2 separate regions of the Homo sapiens genome follow, and region 1 is linked to region 2. The links come from fine-mapping of genetic effects on gene expression. Tissue or cell type: fibroblasts. Region 2 holds a variant in brackets; the other region holds the start of a gene. All regions are shown on one strand. Distances are from middle to middle. Region 1 holds the start of ABHD17B (abhydrolase domain containing 17B, depalmitoylase). Region 2 overlaps ABHD17B (abhydrolase domain containing 17B, depalmitoylase).

What was found. PIP is the estimated chance that this variant, and not a neighbour inherited with it, causes the effect.
Region 1: it holds the start of ABHD17B, and the variant in region 2 is fine-mapped to the expression of ABHD17B in fibroblasts (GENCORD, PIP 0.95).

What each region holds. Positions count from the first base shown.
Region 1 is chr9:71,906,312-71,915,180 of GRCh38, reverse strand. ABHD17B (abhydrolase domain containing 17B, depalmitoylase) reads left to right here and starts at 3,988. Exons shown (of 4, transcript NM_001025780.3): 1 at 3,988-4,547. It overlaps C9orf85 (chromosome 9 open reading frame 85), which reads right to left and starts at 3,542. Exons shown (of 4, transcript NM_182505.5): 1 at 3,345-3,542. The coding sequence starts at 3,446. RefSeq lists enhancers at 3,275-3,334, 3,345-3,394, 3,465-3,774 and a silencer at 4,225-4,464.
Region 2 is chr9:71,863,933-71,872,801 of GRCh38, reverse strand. It overlaps ABHD17B (abhydrolase domain containing 17B, depalmitoylase), which reads left to right. Exons shown (of 4, transcript NM_001025780.3): 3 at 2,540-2,719; 4 at 5,796-7,650. The coding sequence ends at 6,015. Among named protein-coding and RNA genes, the nearest start is that of ABHD17B, 43 kb to the left of the region's middle. The variant G/A (reference allele first, on the strand shown) is at 4,085.

The DNA.
Region 1 (8,869 bases), 42 kb before region 2:
TAATAATAATTTTTGTAATGATCTCTGTAGCAATCCTCAGAGGAAAGTAAGACAAGAGATAGTACTAACCCAGTATCATAGATTAAAAGCTATAGGTAAATTGCCTGACATCATCAAGCAAAACAAATGACAGAACTGGGGCTAAGGAATGGCTCTTTTCTCTTAGTCCAGTGCTCTTTTCGTTGGACATCACTGCCTTTCCAGTAAGGGAAAGAAGGCTGCCTTGATCTGCTCAACATCTCAGTACTAAATGACTAGAAAAGATTTAAACCTATTCCCACTGCCGACCCTCTGAATCCCCATAAGTCATTTGAGGGTACCGGTGACCAATGGCCAGAGGGACCTCTTTTAAATAACCCCAGGGAAGAGGAGGTTACAAATCCCGGCGCAAGCCCCTTCACTGTCAGATAATTCCCTCATATTGAGCTGAAACCTATTTTTGTTACTTTGATTCCCTGGTCCAAGTTTGGCCATTTGAAATGGCACAAAATTTGAATATACTCTCCTTTTCTAGAGTATATTCAAGCATATAAAGAAAGCTATCATCTGTGTCCTTTTGAGAATGAGTGCTTTACCTATATTAACTTCCAATAAAACATCTGTAATTATCCAACTTCTAATTGCAGTGAGTCCTAACAAACTGCTTGGCAGAGGAGGAAAAGAAAAACTATCATGTAGGACCCCTACCAAATCATAAAGTATTTAATACAAGTAGTCAATTGTTACTACAGTCCTCTAAGGCAGGGGTGTCCAATCTTTTGGCTTCTCTGGGCCATACTGGAAGAATTGTCTTGGGCCACACATAAAATACACTAACACTAATGACAACTGATGAGCTTAAAAAAAAAAAAATCACAAAAAAATCTCATAATGTTTTAAGAAAATTTACGAATTTGTGTTGGGTTGCATTCAAAGACGCCCTGCACCATGTGTTGGACAAGCTTGCTTTATGGGGAGTTACAGAGAACCGTGCATTTTTTATCACTCCTTTGTTAGATGTCACCAGATCAAATAGCTTTCCAGTGTAAAGAACAGGCACAAAGTTAGGATCAGATGCTTCTGACAAAGTCTTGGCTTTAGATGGCTACTCATAGCAGATGCAAGAATCTGTTATGATCACAGACAATTATTAGCTATTCATTACACAGATGAACAATCAACCGAATGATTTTTCCTCAGTAAAATATTTTGTGTTGTTTTTGTCAGAACCTTCAATAATGAAGTGGCCTGGTGGTCCTCCTGATTAACAAATGAGACTTTTTCATAACTTAAAAGAGGGAAAGGAATTAAAGATAAAAAGATAAAAATGGTCAAATGCAACTTAGTGACTGAACCTGAGACCCAGGAAAACATTTAGGACCAGAATGACATAGTTATTAGATAACACCAAGAAAATGCACAATGAAAAGTACAAGTAGGAGAAGCTACACTATAGTTAAATACTCATTAAAACTGCTTTTTACGAAAACAGACATGAAAAACAATCAAAAGCAAATGTTTGTGCACAACCTTAGGGTAAGAATACACAAGACGCAGACATCTATTTGGAATAGTGCAGCTTTTTATTTTTATTCTGGTTTACCTATTGATAATGGGAGCAAACTTGGGAAAGTCTTCCCAAATGTTGCTTCAGGTTTTCATTCTGAAAAACCTCTCAACCTAAGTGGGGGAAAGGAGAGCACTTAATTTAAAATATTCTTCCTTATTCTCCCTTACTGAGCTGTGTTGCCCTTCACCAATATTTATCATAATTTGTATTTACTTATCTTTCTGCTTTCTTTTTGCCCATATCACCTAGAAACTATAAACTCCGTGAAGGGAGAGTCAGCTCTTTTGAACACGGTATACCTATGAACACAGGGCCTTGCACACGGAAGGTGCTTATTAAATATTTGTAGAATAAGCAAAGAAAGAAAGAGGAAAGGAAAAGGAGATCACAGGTTACCAAAAACAGATGACTTTGCTTTCCCAATCAATGTCGGGAAATTAATCACTTATTGAACACTTACTATGACCTAGGCCATTTATGCATAATCATATAGTTTCGCCTCCCAACAATCCTGACAAATTTGCATTTGAGACCAAAGTAAGGCTCAGAGAAATTAAATATTATACAACTCACTCAAGCCGCACACCTAGTAAATTTGAGCTCCATAACTTTTGTGAATATTAGGTTTATCTGAGTGATGCTGGCCCCTAATATGCCCCTGTTGTCAATGATTTTCTCTCCATACAGCTATGGAGACAGGGAGAGAGATTCACAGCAAAGAGCAAATTAGTAGTTTTTTGTTTTTGTTTTTTGAGACGGAGTCTTGCTCTGTCGCCCAGGAGTGCAGTGATGTGATCTCAGCTCACTGCAACCACCGCCTCCAGGGTTCAAGCGATTCCCCTGCCTCAGCCTCCCGAGTAGCTGGGATTACCGGCACCCGTCACCACGTCGGCTAATTTTTGTATTTTTAGCAGATTGGGAGTTTCGCCATGTTGGCCAGGTCGTTCTCGAACTTCTGACCTCAGGTGATCCGCCCACCACCTCGGCCTCCCAAAGTGCTGAGATTACAAGCGCCCGCCACCACGCCCGGCTAATTTTTGTATTTTTAGTACAGATGGAGTTTCGCCATGTTGACCAGGTCGTTCTCGAACTCCTGACCTCAGGTGATCCACCCGCTTCGGCCTCCCAAAGTGCTGGGATTACAGCACTTTGAGCCACGGCGCCCGGCCTGCAAATTAGTACTTATATACAACCCAAGTCCTCTGGCTATCTAGACAGTCTGAATTTTTTAGCAGGACTTTACAGAAGTCCTGCTAAAGATAAACAGCAAAACAAGTATTTTTACATTAACCAAATATTTTTATCTTCAAAACAATTGTTACAAAACAGAAATTTCACACAATACTAGTGAGGACAGCCTAAGACAGCTTAATCATTCACATTTCCTCTATGGGCTTGGGGTTTTTGGAAAAAAAAATCGTAGCTGCATAAACTTGGTGTAAAATTTGAAAAAGCCACTCATGCCACAATCCTCGTTTCCCTCTGCTAATGTGATCCAGATGGGAACGCTGAACGACGTAACTGCCCCATCTGCACCTTAGATTTCATTAGGGTCCTGTTCACTCTGTGCAATTAGTTAAGTGTGCTGACCATCAAATATTTACCAGGAGACAACATGTCCAGGTCAAAGAAAGGGCGTGAGAATAACATTTTAGAAAGAGTTGCACTGCAGCCAAGACTAACTCTGGGCTGCGGTCCACACTCGCCCCAGCCGACTCCTCTCATTTCCTCTCTCCCCTCTCCAGTGAGCCATTCCTTCCTGGAGTCAAAGACGGTGCAACAGGCAGGTTCCTACCTTGGTCTGCACACTTTTATCGAACTTGTCATTTTTGAAGCTAAACGTATTCTGGTGCTTCTGAGGTCTGGAACGAGCCACGTTGCCTTTCTGGGAGCTCATCGCCGAAATCAAAGCCACCCCTCGCCGGGAGCAGGCAAAAGGATGAGGGGAAAGAAAACCAACGAACTACTCCCAGGAATTGACGCTTCTGTCAATGACCCGGAAGAAACAAACGCAGCCTTTCCGCCCCGGCTCTGGGTCAGCCCACGTGACTCTTCTGGGAGGTCAAAGAGCATCGCTCTGCCCTCCCTGCTGTTAAGCCAAGCCACTCCACGCGGCGCAGCCTCGACCCCTCCGGCTCCGCGCAGCCTCTTTCTCAAACCCGGAGAACAAGTCCCACTTTCTTCGAAATGAGAATTCCCCCATTGGCCCGAATGTGTAGTCCATCAAATCAAAGGGGCGGGGAACCTTTGTTCCTATTGGTTCTTCTTTTCCGCAATCCCCGCCTCCTGCTGAGCGAGCTCAGCCTCTCCTTGAGCTCAGAGCGCCTCCCACCCTGCCGGGCGGCCTCTGATTGGTGGAAGTGAGGCAAGGCTGGGCTCCGTCTCTCCCCCCGCCCGCTAGTAGGCTGGAGCCGGGGTCAGCTTTGGCACCTTCCTCCAGTCAGTGGCCAACTCCTGGCTCAGTGGGGATTGTGCTCGTCCCCTCCGTTCCCCTCCAGTCTTCCTCCCGCTACCGGAACGAGCCTCGCGCTTGGCAGGCTGAGGAGGAGCAAAGAAAGCAGGATTAAAGAGAAGGAAGACCTGGCTAGGTCTGGGTGGCGTCTGCAGTGCCAGAAAGGGAGGCGGTGGCGGCGGCGGCTGCGACCACGGCCGCGCGGGACGTGAGGCCCGAGAGCAACCGACGGGCAGCGGCGGCCGCTCCAGCGCCCCGCACCGGGGCCGTTAGTCAGCAGAACGCGAGCTCTTGTGGAGGAGCAGGGCCGGCGCGAGGCGAGACTCGGGAGCGTGAGCGGGGCCCCTGGGGCGCCGCCGTCCTTCTTCGCCCCGGCGCCGGGGGCTGTAGCCCTGGTCCCCGCTCCTCTGTCGGGCCAGTCTGCAGGCGGAGAGAGTCGGACGGCGCCCGGAGCGCGGATCTCGCCTTGTGGAGGACAGCGCGTCGGCTGCGGTTCTCTCTCGACCCCTTCTGCCCGGCGCTTCGGCCCGGGCCGCTCAGGTGCAGGTGCGTGCGGCCTCGGGGTTTGGGGACGCCGCAGCCCGGCTCGGGGAGGGGGCGCTAGGCCGGGAGCCGCAGCGCGGGAGGGACGAGCCCGGGCCGGCGGGGGGAGGGGAGCGGGAAGCGTCTTTGTTGTTGGCGACCGGGATCCCTTCTCGGCACAGGGGAAAGGCGGGGAAGCCACTCCTCATCGGGTCTGTGTTTTTGAGAGGATTCTCTGATGGTTGCGTGAAGGGGAGCGGTAGGACAGTCCCTGCGGTCCGTGGAGCGGCCGGAGTCAGGGGGTGGGGGAGGGAGGACCGACCGACACTCTAAGAAGGTCTTTGGTCCTCCTCGGTGAAGAGAAGGGTTCCATTTCATTTCCTTTGCTTTTCTCTCAGTGGATGAAAAGATGGGGTCAGGTTCCCATTCCCCTCACTGGCGCACTGAGAGATTCGCGGGTGCCTAAAAGCTTTCTCCTGAATGTCCTTATATCTCTGTCGGGCGCGATTTTAGATTGAATCTGCACGGGGCTTGGCGATTTGTGTATTCCGGTGGGGCTGTCGTAGGGTTCTTTTTCTTTAGATGGTTGGGCTTTAATCTTATTTGTTTTCGAACTCTAAGGTAGGCTTATCAGGAATCGTTTTTGAATTGGAAAATTTAAAGGTTTTGTTTGGGATTTTTTTTAACCCCGAAACAAAGTTATGTCAAATTAGATTGTACTGTGTGGGGGCTCTCGTGAAGGAAAGAGTGTATTTAACCTGGGGTTTTTGTTTAAAAAAAAAAAAAGTTCAGATCTTTGATCTTTGGTGAGATCTCTGCCAATGCCAGAAGAGAATTTTTTGTAAATGATGCTTTAAGTCAGTGTGAAGTAGATTTGGTAAGCAAAAGGATGAATAACGGAATACAGAGGGTGACCTTTAAATTTCGCTGTTTATGAAATGTGTTCCTGTTTAATACTTTTTGTGATATATGATGCTTGATCTATAGATGATTCATTTGGAATTTTTTTATGCCTCTAATAAATCTTTGGAGATCTTGTGCCAACATATGAAACTATAATACCTAATGAGTCGGAGTAGAAAGCCAGATACATGTTGTAATAACGTTAATCTGTTTAGATTAACAGGGAAATTTACATTAAAATGAACTTTTTTCCGTAAAGAGTTTCTCTACATATGTTTATAGCATGAATTTCAGTTGGGTGACATCTAATGATAGCCAGTATTTTGAAAATTGTCATGATTGCTAGTATTCTAATTTGAGACTGCTCAACTTGTTGGTAAGTTTTTATTTGGAGAATAGGGGTCGTGTTACTTAAGGAACAGCAGAGGTAAAAATCTCTGTTGTGCAGTAATTGTCATATCATTTGAAATCCAGAAGGAAATGAATGGCACCTTCACCTATATTTTGACCTCTCTTTTCTCCTACTCTAGTGTTAATAAGGTTAATTGGCAAGGACAGGATTAGATTTTTAGCAGGCTAGGCAGTTTTAATTTTGTCCCTTAGTGTGCAGTATTCTAGTTGATGAGTAGCTTGTTTCCTTGAGTATCTTTGCCCATTTTGAAATGTTTATGAAATGACTGCTGACAAAGAATTTTCTGTTTCCTGGGACAAACAAAATCACCAAAAAACATCATGAAAAAATAATGTTTTTAGTAGCTTAATGAACACAGAAGAATTAAGCAATTAGTGTCTGTTCCAAGTTTGACACTGAATTGGTCTACAACTCCAGGCACGCTATCCCACATCTGAGTCAGTTTTCTCCATCTGTAATATAGGGCTGATAAAATGTGCCACCTGCTCACTTTATAAAAAGGGGAGTGAGAACCATGTAAGCAACAGTTACTCTGGTTATGTGACATTGATATAAGTTAAATGAGAATACTTTTTAATGCAGTGCTCTTACTTTGTTTTGATATTATGAATTTCAATCATTTGATGAACAGTTAGCATAAAGATAAGGAGAATGACTCTCCCTATGCCATCATTTAAGAATTAAAATTTCTTCCGTATTAAGATTGGTGTTAAGATCTTTAGAAGCAGTGATGACAAGAAAATAGAGTATATTTTATTGGTTGGTTTATTTACTGGTAGATTTTACTTCTGATTTATCCAAAGTTTTGCTCTTAATTCTGAAAATTCCCCCTACCCTTCCTACTCTTTAAAATTTCTCACATACATTGCCCCATTTGCCTGTCGAATCCAGCCTTGTGAGTTGGAGAGAGGGAAGGTGAGTTTGTGGCCTTTTTTTTTTTTTTTTTTTTTGAGACGGAGTTTTGCTCTTGTTGCCCAGGCTGGCGTGCAATGGCGCGATCTCGGCTCACTGCAACCTCTGCTTCCCGGGTTCAAGTGATTCTTCTGCCTCAGCCTCCTGAGTAGCTGGGATTACGGGCACCCGCCACCACTCCCGGCTAATTTTTTGTATTTTTAGTAGAGATGGGGTTTCACCACGTTGGCCATGCTGGTCTTCAACTCCTGACCTCAGGTGATCCACCCGCCTTGGCCTCCCAAAGTGCTAGGATTACAGGTGTGAGCCACTTCACTGTTTGTGGAATTTTTACAGATGAAATAAATAAAGCCCAGATAAGTTAATTATTTCAATTGCCTAAAGCTAAGCAATTAGTAAGAAGTAGAATTGAGGCTTGAACTTGGGTCTTCTCTAGTCCTGAATCCTTTGCTTTGGAGCAGTGTTTTCCAAACACCTGTTCATGCCCAAGAGTTTTGTCCAAGTGAAGTGAGAACTAACATAGCAATATAAATGTTGGTGCCATACAATATAATGAATATCCATGTACCCATCACCCAGTTAAACAAACAAAACTACCAATTAAAACGAAGTGTCCGGCCAGGCTCGGTGGCTCACGCCTGTAATCCCAGCACTTTGGGAGGGAGGCCGAGGCAGGCGGATCACCTGGGGTCGGGAGTTAGAGACCAGCCTGACCAACATGGAGAAACCCCGTCTCTACTAAAAATACAAAATTAGCCGGGTGTGGTGGTGCTTGCCTGTAATCCCAGCCACTCGGGAGGCTGAGGCAGGAGAATCGCTTGAACCCAGGAGGCAGAGGTTGTGGTGAGCCAAGATAGCACCATTGCACTCCAGCGTGGGCAGCAAGAGCAAAACTCTGTCTCAGAAAAACAAAAACAAAAAACGAGGTTTCCTTAGTATGTTAATACCTCTCTTAAATGCTGTTCCCTTTTCCCCCCGATATCTAACCAGTGACCCAAAGTTGACATGCATCCTTCCTATATCCACGTGTTGATACTTAACTACATACCTTTATCCTATGAACATTATATATATATAGTTTTATTTTGATTGTCTTAAGACTATTTAAATACAGATATCTTTATTTAGCTTGCTTTCTTCACACAACTTGGCCAAGATTTATCTATGTTTATTTAGGTAGCTCTAGTTTATTTACTTTTACTGTTAGGTGGTATGTGCTCTGTTATATAACTATGTCAGGTTTCTGTTGATGGTCATTTTTGTTGTTTCCATTTGTTTGCTATTAAACAGTACTATAAGGAATATTCCTGTATATGTTAGGTATCTGTTGTGTAAGACTTCTAGAGCAGTGGTTCTTGACCCTACCTACATCCCATGTTCATAGAAAATATTTTACAGTACTTTAAAGAAAGCATTGGCCTTAATAAAATAAGAAAAAATTGTAATAAAGTAATATGTGTTTCACTTTGTAAATACTCGAGCTCAAGACTACATTCAAGATTAGCCACCAAGTGTAATGGTCGACCAGCAACATCAGAATCCCTTGGGAGCTTGTTGGAAATGCAGAGCATCAGACTTTAACCTACTGATGCAGATGCTGTTTTTTTTTTTGTTTGTTTGTTTGTTTTTTAATAATGTAAAAGACAGGATCTCTGGAGCCATACAACTCACTGTAACCTCAAACTCCTGGGCTCAAGGGATCCTCCCACTTCAGCCTCCTGAGCATCTGGGACTACAGGTATGCACCATCAAGCCTGGCTAATTTTTAGATTTTTTACAGAGACAGGGTCTTGCTATCTTGCCCAGGCTGATCTTGAACTCCTGGCCTCAAGTGATCCTCCCTCCTCAGTATCCCAAAGCACTGGGACATTGGGATTACAGACATGAGCCACTGTGCCCGGCCAGATGCTGTATTTTATCAAGATTCCCAGGTGATGCATATACGCATTGAAATATAAGAAGCACTGCTAAAAGAAATAGTAGTAATTAGACGCTTTGTACCAATGGATGGTGTCTCCATCAATACAACAGCTACAGATTAAAACAGGTATGTTAGCCATTCAATTACCAATGCTGGGCCTGTCATTGGTGGAAAAGTGGAAAATGATTTTCTGAAATA
Region 2 (8,869 bases):
AACTGCTTTAAATAAAAATCTTTTACATATATTGATATCAGTTCCATCAAGCCTTAAAACAAACAGAAACTGAGTGCCCACTTTTTAGAGTCAGTCAGTTGAATAACGTATAACAACTATAAGAAAGTATTATAATTAAAAAAATAGCTTTATTGAGTGATAAGGTTCACACTTTTAAAGGTTAACTTCAGTGGAATAATGAAGTTTTAAAGGGTGCTAAGTTAAAACTGATAGCCAGCTTTCATTATTAGTGCTTCCCAGTAACGCAAAAGGGTCACTTTACTCAAACAAAACATGTTAGTATTCAGTTCAGTGTTCTGTGTCTATATGAAAAAATCCCATTTTTTAAGTGGTCAACTTTACTGTTTTTTTCTTTTCTTTTCTTTTAATCTTGGCATTTACCAATTTGAAGAAAACTTTGAAAAATGATTTTCAGCCTTAATTTTTTTAACATATTTGATAGCCAGTGTTAATCAGGAATGGGCAGATTTCATCAATAATCCCACATACTATTTTAGCACTTATATTTTAGAATTTTAGACCTGTGTTTTCTTTCGTGTTGAAACCAAAATATAGTTGGAGTTTCATAAGTGTAGGTACTTTAGGAAATATTACTTCTCTGAGCCTGTGTTTCCTCATCTGTTTAATGAAGAGATTGAATTAAATGATCCCCAAGATCTTTTCCAATTCTGGAATTCTGTCATCTAATGAAATGTGTGTAATTAGAATACATGCCTTTTATTTTATTTGCCTGATTAAAAGTTAGGACTTAAGTAACCAGGAGAGAGAAAATAAATAATGAACTTAAATAATGTTCATTTTTGGGATGAATGAACATTGGAATGTCCTTTTTGGGAAAATTGGATATCCATAATAACTCCAATTTCTGACCTTCTGATGGACCAAAAGAAACTCGGGGCCTGGCATTCACTATGCACCTTTCCCACAAAGTCCTTGAGTTCCTCATCTGTGTGCTTCAGAGGTAAAAAACACTGAACTGGGAGTCAGTATACCTGGGTTCTAATTATAGAGCTGTCATCTACTGGTGACTTTGAAGATCTGCTCATTAGGCAGCTGGACTCTAGATTAGATGGTCTCTAAACTCCTTTCTAGCTCATACTGTTAGGCAGTTGTTACTCTTGTGAGTCCCCTCATGCTTAATTGTCAGCTACCTCTGCGACTCTATCCTTGAGCATTGTCATTGCTAGCTGTAGCCCAAATTTCATGATTGCCACCAACAATGCTGATATTCAGCTGACAGCAACAATGCAGCCTCAAGAACTGTGGTCATGCTGCAAATGTTCATTCTCCTAATTTCTTCATTCGTATGAAATATGTGCAACTAGGTCTGTTGTAAAGAAAAAAGCTTTTCTGAGTTTGCTAATATTTAGAGTCAATTTGAAGTAGACAGAGCCCCACTTTCTGTGTCCTATACAAATGCTTGTGTAGTACTGACTTGAAGAAACTATATGGGGAGAGCTGTGTTACTACCTGTATAGTTGAAATAGTATTATGCCCCTGGAAGAGAACACACGGACAGTTTCCCTCGCTCTTTCCTGGTGAATATCCAGATTCTTAGAAAGATATTTTACCTTTGCAAAAGATTTCCAAAAGCAGCTGTTATGTTCTTAGCTGCCAGAGTGACTGCTGTCTGCCTTCTAAGTGGAAAGGTGTATTTAATGTCACTATAACCTTTAAGCCCACATTCATTAGCTCAGGTAGCACTGTACTTACACTTGCAGTAGTTTACATTTGGGATGATTATACTGTAGACAAGTAGCAAGCAGTTCCTTGAACATACTAGGTACCCAATAAATATTTATTGAGTCAATGAGTTTTCATCTATTTAAACCTGTGGCCATTTTAAAGGGATTAAAATAGTACCTTGTAATTTTAGCGTAAAGTCTAATCATAAATAATTGGACCATGTGGTGTTTGGAATTCTTTTTTATCTTTTCAACCATTAGTCCATTTCTACAACTAAGCAAAGATCAATTTTAAGAAAAATCGTAAAATCATAATTTGCCCTTTACTAAAACCATACATATATTCATTTCATACCATAACTATATGTAACAGTTCATCAATATGACCAATTTTGGAAATTAAAATGAGCCACTCTTGATGTGTGGAGAAATAAATAACTTTTGTTACACTGAACGGAAAATAAATATGACCTATTCATTCAACATCAGTTCATTAAAATATTAGTGATATGCCCCAAGCTTAGTCAGCAGTAAGCTAGGTTGAAATATTATAGTGTAATAAATTATTTAATAAATTTATTTCTTAAGATTGAAATCTTAAAATACCTCAGCAATTATTCTTCCAAAAGATGAAGTAGAGAAACACATGAAATAAACTGATGATACAGACTTTATTGTAATGTTAAAACTAACAGTAATAGCTAAGAAACTTAAGTTTAAAAAATGGATTAGTTGACATTGTCTTATTCTAAGATCAAATCCTTTGGAATGATGGAACATTTCATATCACTCCAACTTTTTTGGTTTTTGTTTTTAACGCCTGAACTTTGTAGATATGGCATTCGCCCTGAAAATGTGATTATATATGGCCAAAGTATAGGGACAGTACCGTCTGTGGATCTTGCTGCTCGATATGAGAGTGCTGCTGTTATTCTTCATTCTCCTCTGACTTCGGGAATGCGAGTTGCCTTTCCTGATACCAAGAAGACCTACTGTTTTGATGCATTCCCAAAGTAAGTAGCAATATTCAAAATAGTTAAATTCCAAGAAACTTGGGAATTTTTTCATCATTTAAAGTATTCATGACACAGTTCACTCAACCATAAACTTCATTTTATATATATTAGCACATAGAAATTATGAAAAATTAATTTGTAAAGAGGGTATTAGCAGGTGACCAGTCAGAAGGCTGAAATGTTTGAGGAGTAGTAATCCAGATGAAAATTGCTGAGGGCCTTACACCTCAGGTGGTGGCACTAGTATTGGAGACAAGGGAATTAATTTGAAACATAAATTTGACAGAACTGAGTATCAGACTGGGTGTAGGATGCTAAAGAGAAAAACTTGAACATGACTACCATGTTTCTGCCCTGAGGTGCTAATGGATAGGGCCATCCAGTGAGACACTTGATGTTAGAGAAGAACAGGTAGAAGCTAAAATGAGTAAATATCTGATTAATGATACCTAACTTACAAAAGAAGTGAATTGAAAAAAAGTTGAATCTTAAATTAACTAGATTAGTAAGTATTGCTGCCACAAAACCTGCAAACATACTTAGATGTATTTGAAAGGAAAGTAGCTACTTTTCCTTCATGCTTCTCAAGACAGGAGGTAGTTCCCACCTACTCTTCATAGTTGGAAAAAATTAATGGCCTATTTTTCTCAAGGAGAAGACAAGAAATAAGTTGGCAAATTTTAGTTTTCTCTCCTTTCTCCAATTGGCAGCAATACAAAGGATTTTTTTTGTGAATGGCCGATGGGCCAAAGGCAAAGTCATCACATGGTTCAAGAATTATTTTAAAAACACAGAATTTTCATCATTAGCCAGTAATGGATCACTTTAGTAGGGAAAGTATGTGAACACATGATCTTATCACAAGGGCAAGCTGTGGGCATGTTTGGGTTTTTATTTTGTTTTGGGTTTGTTTTTGTTTCAGGTAATGTGGGTATAGGCATTATACTGCCTCTGTCTAGCTGAATGGTAAAAATGATAGGGATGTATCTGAGTATCCCCATATCAGTGTTGTTGTCAACTTATGTCTCCATCTAGCTCCCTCTTTCATTTCTGGTGCACCAACAGAGAGCAACACTAAAAATAAACTGTTTGGCCAGGCACAGTGGTTCACGCCTGTAGTCCCAGCACTTTTGGAGGCCGTGGCGGGTGGATCACTTGAGGCCAAGAGTTCGAGACCAGCCTGGCCAACATGGTGAAACCCCGTCTCCACCAAAATTACAAAAATTAGCCAGGCATGGTGATGCGTGCCTGTAATCCCAGCTACTCGAGAGGCTGAGGCATGAGAATCCCTTGAACCTGGGAGACAGAGATGGCAGTGAGCCAAGATGGTGCCACTGCACTCCAGCCTGGGCGACAGAGCGA[G/A]ACCCTGTCTCAAAAAATAAAAATAAACTGTTTGAAAAAGATAATATACTTCTTTTTATTTTTTATTCAAGTTTTAATTCCTCTACCGCTGAACATCTTTCTGACAACAGATAGTAAACCCAAGTATTTATTCTTACCAAATGCAGCCTTAGATTATTTCATTGATGGTTTTTTCATTGTCAACATTCCATTTTCATTTTATGTTTATTATAATACCTTTCTCTAAAGATTCTTAAAAAGAATTGTCTGTGTAGTTTCTGTGTCCTCCAAGTTGCCTTTTAAAAAAGTGTTTGTTTTGATTCCTCTGTTATTTGAAGTGTTCTCCTCTCATGTCTGATAATTCTTGGTTGCCTGCTTATATGTAAGTAAAGGAGCTGATCAACTCTTTACTCTTACATATAAGCAGACAATCAAGATTTAGCAGATCAACTAAAGGGCTGATCTGATAATAATCTCCAAAGAAGGCTCTTTCTTTCTTTCTTTCTTTCTTTTTTTTTCTGAGACAGAGTCTCGCTGCGACACCCAGGCTGGAGTACAATGGTGTGATCTTGGCTCACTGCAACCTCTGCCTCCAGGGTTCAAGTGATTCTCCTGCCTCAGCCTCGCGAGTAGCTGGGATTACAGGCATGCGCCATCATGCCTGGCTAATTTTTTTTTTTTTTTTTGTATTTTTAGTAGAGACGGGGTTTCACCATGTTGATCAGGCTGGTCTCGAACTCCTGACCTCAGGTGATCCACCCACTACGGCCTCCCAAAGTGCCGAGATTACAGGCATGAGCCACCGCACCTGGCCCAAAGAAGACTTTCTAAAAGTCCCTCCTGGAGGACAGTGGCCTGACTACCAGCATTCTGGGAGCCACATAGGGAAAATGGGTTCATAGTAGCCAGTATGTAAATGTATATGTTTCCATTGTCTCTATGATACCTCTGTTCTAAACTCTGGCAGTCTTCTAGTTCACAGACATTCCAGTCTTGGGGGCAGGCAGTTTCTGGGTATATGAACAGGCAAAAGGAACTGGGAAGGGGAGGCTAACTTTCTTACACAGACTTTGCAAAAATCCTGTATATTTCAATCACCCCCTTCATCACCATGGTAATTCCTTAGCTTTCTGGGGTATTCTGTTGTATAAATTGGTTTCGTTCATCACTTTACCATCTATCTGCCTAAAATTGTGTTTTCTTCTTTTAATAAATTGTTTCACACATTAATCTTCTTTCCAGCTCCAACATTTTATTATATTTTAGTACATTCTCCTTGTTTTTGTATCTTTATCCTCAAACAAGAACAAAAACATAAAACATTTTGCTGTCATTTTAGTAGGAGACTAGGAGAAAGAATATAGTGAGTGCAGAAAGTGAAATTAGCGCATACTTGAAATGGTTCTTAAATTTTCTCTTCTTCTGGACACCTAAGTTTCTCTGTGCCAAAAGTCAACATTGTAGAAAGGTACAGTAGAGTGACAAGAGCATTGAGTGATTCCAGCAAAACCATCAAAACAAGTGCATGAAAATAACTTCCTCAGATAATCTTAAGGTAGGGAGTATGTAAAAGGCAATTTTTGAATCTTACTGGAAATTCAGGAGACATTCTTACCTTCTGAACTGATTCATACAATTCTCATATTTGAATTATCTGTCTGATATAGCACAAGAATATGTTCCTTTACATAGTTAATTTATTGCATTTTTCCCCCTTCCTTTTTCCCTGCAGCATTGACAAAATCTCTAAGATAACCTCTCCAGTATTAATAATTCATGGGACTGAAGATGAAGTCATTGACTTTTCACATGGCCTCGCATTGTTTGAACGTTGCCAAAGACCTGTGGAGCCTCTCTGGGTTGAAGGAGCAGGTCACAATGATGTGGAACTTTATGGACAGTATCTTGAAAGGTTGAAACAGTTTGTGTCACAGGAACTGGTAAATTTGTAAAATATTCTGTAAATTTGCTACTGGGTTTTCCTTTCTTGCTGAACTGCACTCTTTGGTAAATAACATAAAACCTGAAGGTTTTGTTTGCAAATCATGTCAGTTGCCTTCATAAATGTACAGGTAATGATTTGTTAACAGACTTAATGAAGGTTTTAATTACCAGAACTAAAAACTGGAAATAACAGTACCGTGCAGTCAGGCTGTGTAATTTATATTTTTTCTGTGAATTTTTTTTTAACATCAAGATGAGTACTGTATGAGATTTTAATTCTATAAAATCAAATGCTGTAAAAGTATTGCCAAATGCTTTTGCATACTAGAAACAAATTTATAAATATTTTTAAAACATCTCAATATATTAAATCTTATCCTGGAATACAACTGTAATATTTTGAAAAAAGCTATGTATCTAAAGCAATTTAAGTACTCATAATGGAATGAACTGTAAAAGAGATTTAAAACCATGCAAGTTCACTAGAATTAACCTAAACCCTGTTGTACAGGGATAGAGGTTTAAAGTTATTTTATTGTAAAATACATTGAATTTTCTGTATACTCTGATTACATACATTTATCCTTTAAAAAAGATGTAAATCTTAATTTTTATGCCATCTATTAATTTACCAATGAGTTACCTTGTAAATGAGAAGTCATGATAGCACTGAATTTTAACTAGTTTTGACTTCTAAGTTTGGTACTGTGAGGCAAGTACTTAAAATTTTCATGCTGGTTACTTAAAAGGCATTTAGAGATTTCAAGAATGATTTTGTATACGATGTTTTAAATTTTGACTGATCTCATAGTCTTCATAGAATTGCAGTAGTCTTCATTGTATGAAATCCCGAAAGTCCATGAGTTGATCTTAAAGACCACTAACAGACTGGCTATCAGATCCCTTTTCACTTTGGCTATTTTTTTCATTTTTTGAGATGGAGTCTTGCTGTGTCACTGAGGCTGGAGTGCAGTGGCGCGATCTTGATTCACTGCAACCTCTGCCTCCCGGGATCAAGTGATTCTCCTGCCTCAGCCTCCTGAGTAGCTGGTATTACAGATGCTTGCCACCACGCCTGGCTAATTTTTGTATTTTTAGTAGAGACAGGGTTTTGCCATGTTGATCAGGCTGGTCTTGAACTCCTGACCTCATGATCTGCCCTTGGCCTCCCAAAGTGTCGGAATTACAGGCATGAGCCACTGCGCCTGGCCCACTTTAGCTATTTTTAAAAATAGGACCTATTGTTTTGGATTACTATCTGAGAATTTCATGGATTCACTCCTGGGTATAGGAGATAAGAATACGTTTAATTCATAACTTTTATATTAACCAATATAGTAAAAAAATAAAGCTCACACATACAAAAACTAAGTTGCCTTTCCTTGAATGAACCCTGTCTGAATAAAACAATGAAAAATAAAAATAAAATTAATGGTATGTAGTCTAATTTGTAAATGAATGAATATGGAAATAATACACACTGTGGATATATTTTAAGGCCTTATGTAGTTTTAATTGTTCTGCTCGTTCCGTGGTTATGTTTAAGACTATAGTATATGACTCTCTTCAAAGTATATCAAGTATTGTGAATGCTTTGGTTCAGATGTGTCAAATTAACAGTAAAACAACAAATATACCACTGACCTGTGCTTATTTGCCTTTTTCCATGCTCCCCACCCCCACACTAGAAAGAGTGAAAAAAAATTACCCTTCGTTTTTATAGGACATAGTTTGAAAATTTTTAAAATTATATCATCACTTTTTTGGAGAGGTCTTTCTTTCTCAAGATTGTCTTGTAACCTATACAGTTTCTTCTTTGTACAGCATACAACCCAGGGCTTAGCTAAATGTTTTCTTTGATTACCTGGGGAAATCTAAATATTGATCCTATTCATTCAGTGTTCGTTCATTCAACAGACAGTTACTGAATGTATAAATCATGCAAAAACCTGTGCTAGGTAAAGACAGACTGTGTCCTCATAGATTTCATGGTATAGCTAAGGAGACAGGCACCTCATTGCACAAATATTACTATTTTGATAAGGGCTGAAGGAGATTTGTAAGGTATTGTAACAGGTAAAAGGTACTTTTGGGAGGGGAACATAGGGAGCAGGGCAAGGAAGAGTCCCCCAGAGAAGTGGTATTTCAGCTAAGTTTTGAAGGATAACTAAGAATTGGGTAGACCTGGGTGACCCAGGGGAAGCATTCCTAGCTGAGGGGAATGAATAATATATGGAAGCCTAGAGGAAGGAAGGTGCAGTTAAATATGAAGACTGGGCCAGGGGCGGTGGCTCATGTCTGTAATCCCAGTACTTTGGGAGGCTGAGGCAGGTGGATCACGAGGTCAGGAGATCGAGACCATCCTGGCTAACACGGTGAAACCCTGTCTCTACTAAAAACACAAAAAGTTAGCTGGGCGTGGTGGCACGCGCCTGTAGTCCCAGCTACTTGGGAGGCTGAGGCAGGAGAATCACTTGAACCCGGGAGGTGGAGGTTGCAGTGAGCCGAGATCGCACCACTGCACTCCAGCCTGGGTGACAGAGCGAGACTCTGTCTCAAAAAAAAAAAAAAAAAAAAAAAAGAAAGTTTGGCCTATGCATGAGGCTGCTAATTAGGAACACAATTACAGATGGCATGGTGAACCCTAGTCTTTATCCTAGAAACAAATAGGCCATTGATAGAAAAAGGAAACAGCACTTGTCAAGAGTATAGATGAAAAAATCTGGAGATTTTCGCTTGCTGGAAATAACGTGTAAGTCAGTTGTGTAGAAACTGATCTAATTTTAGAGTGGTGAAAAATACATCATGGGAAAATGATACACAAAGTGCTGTTCAAACCACATTTACATTACTAATGTTATT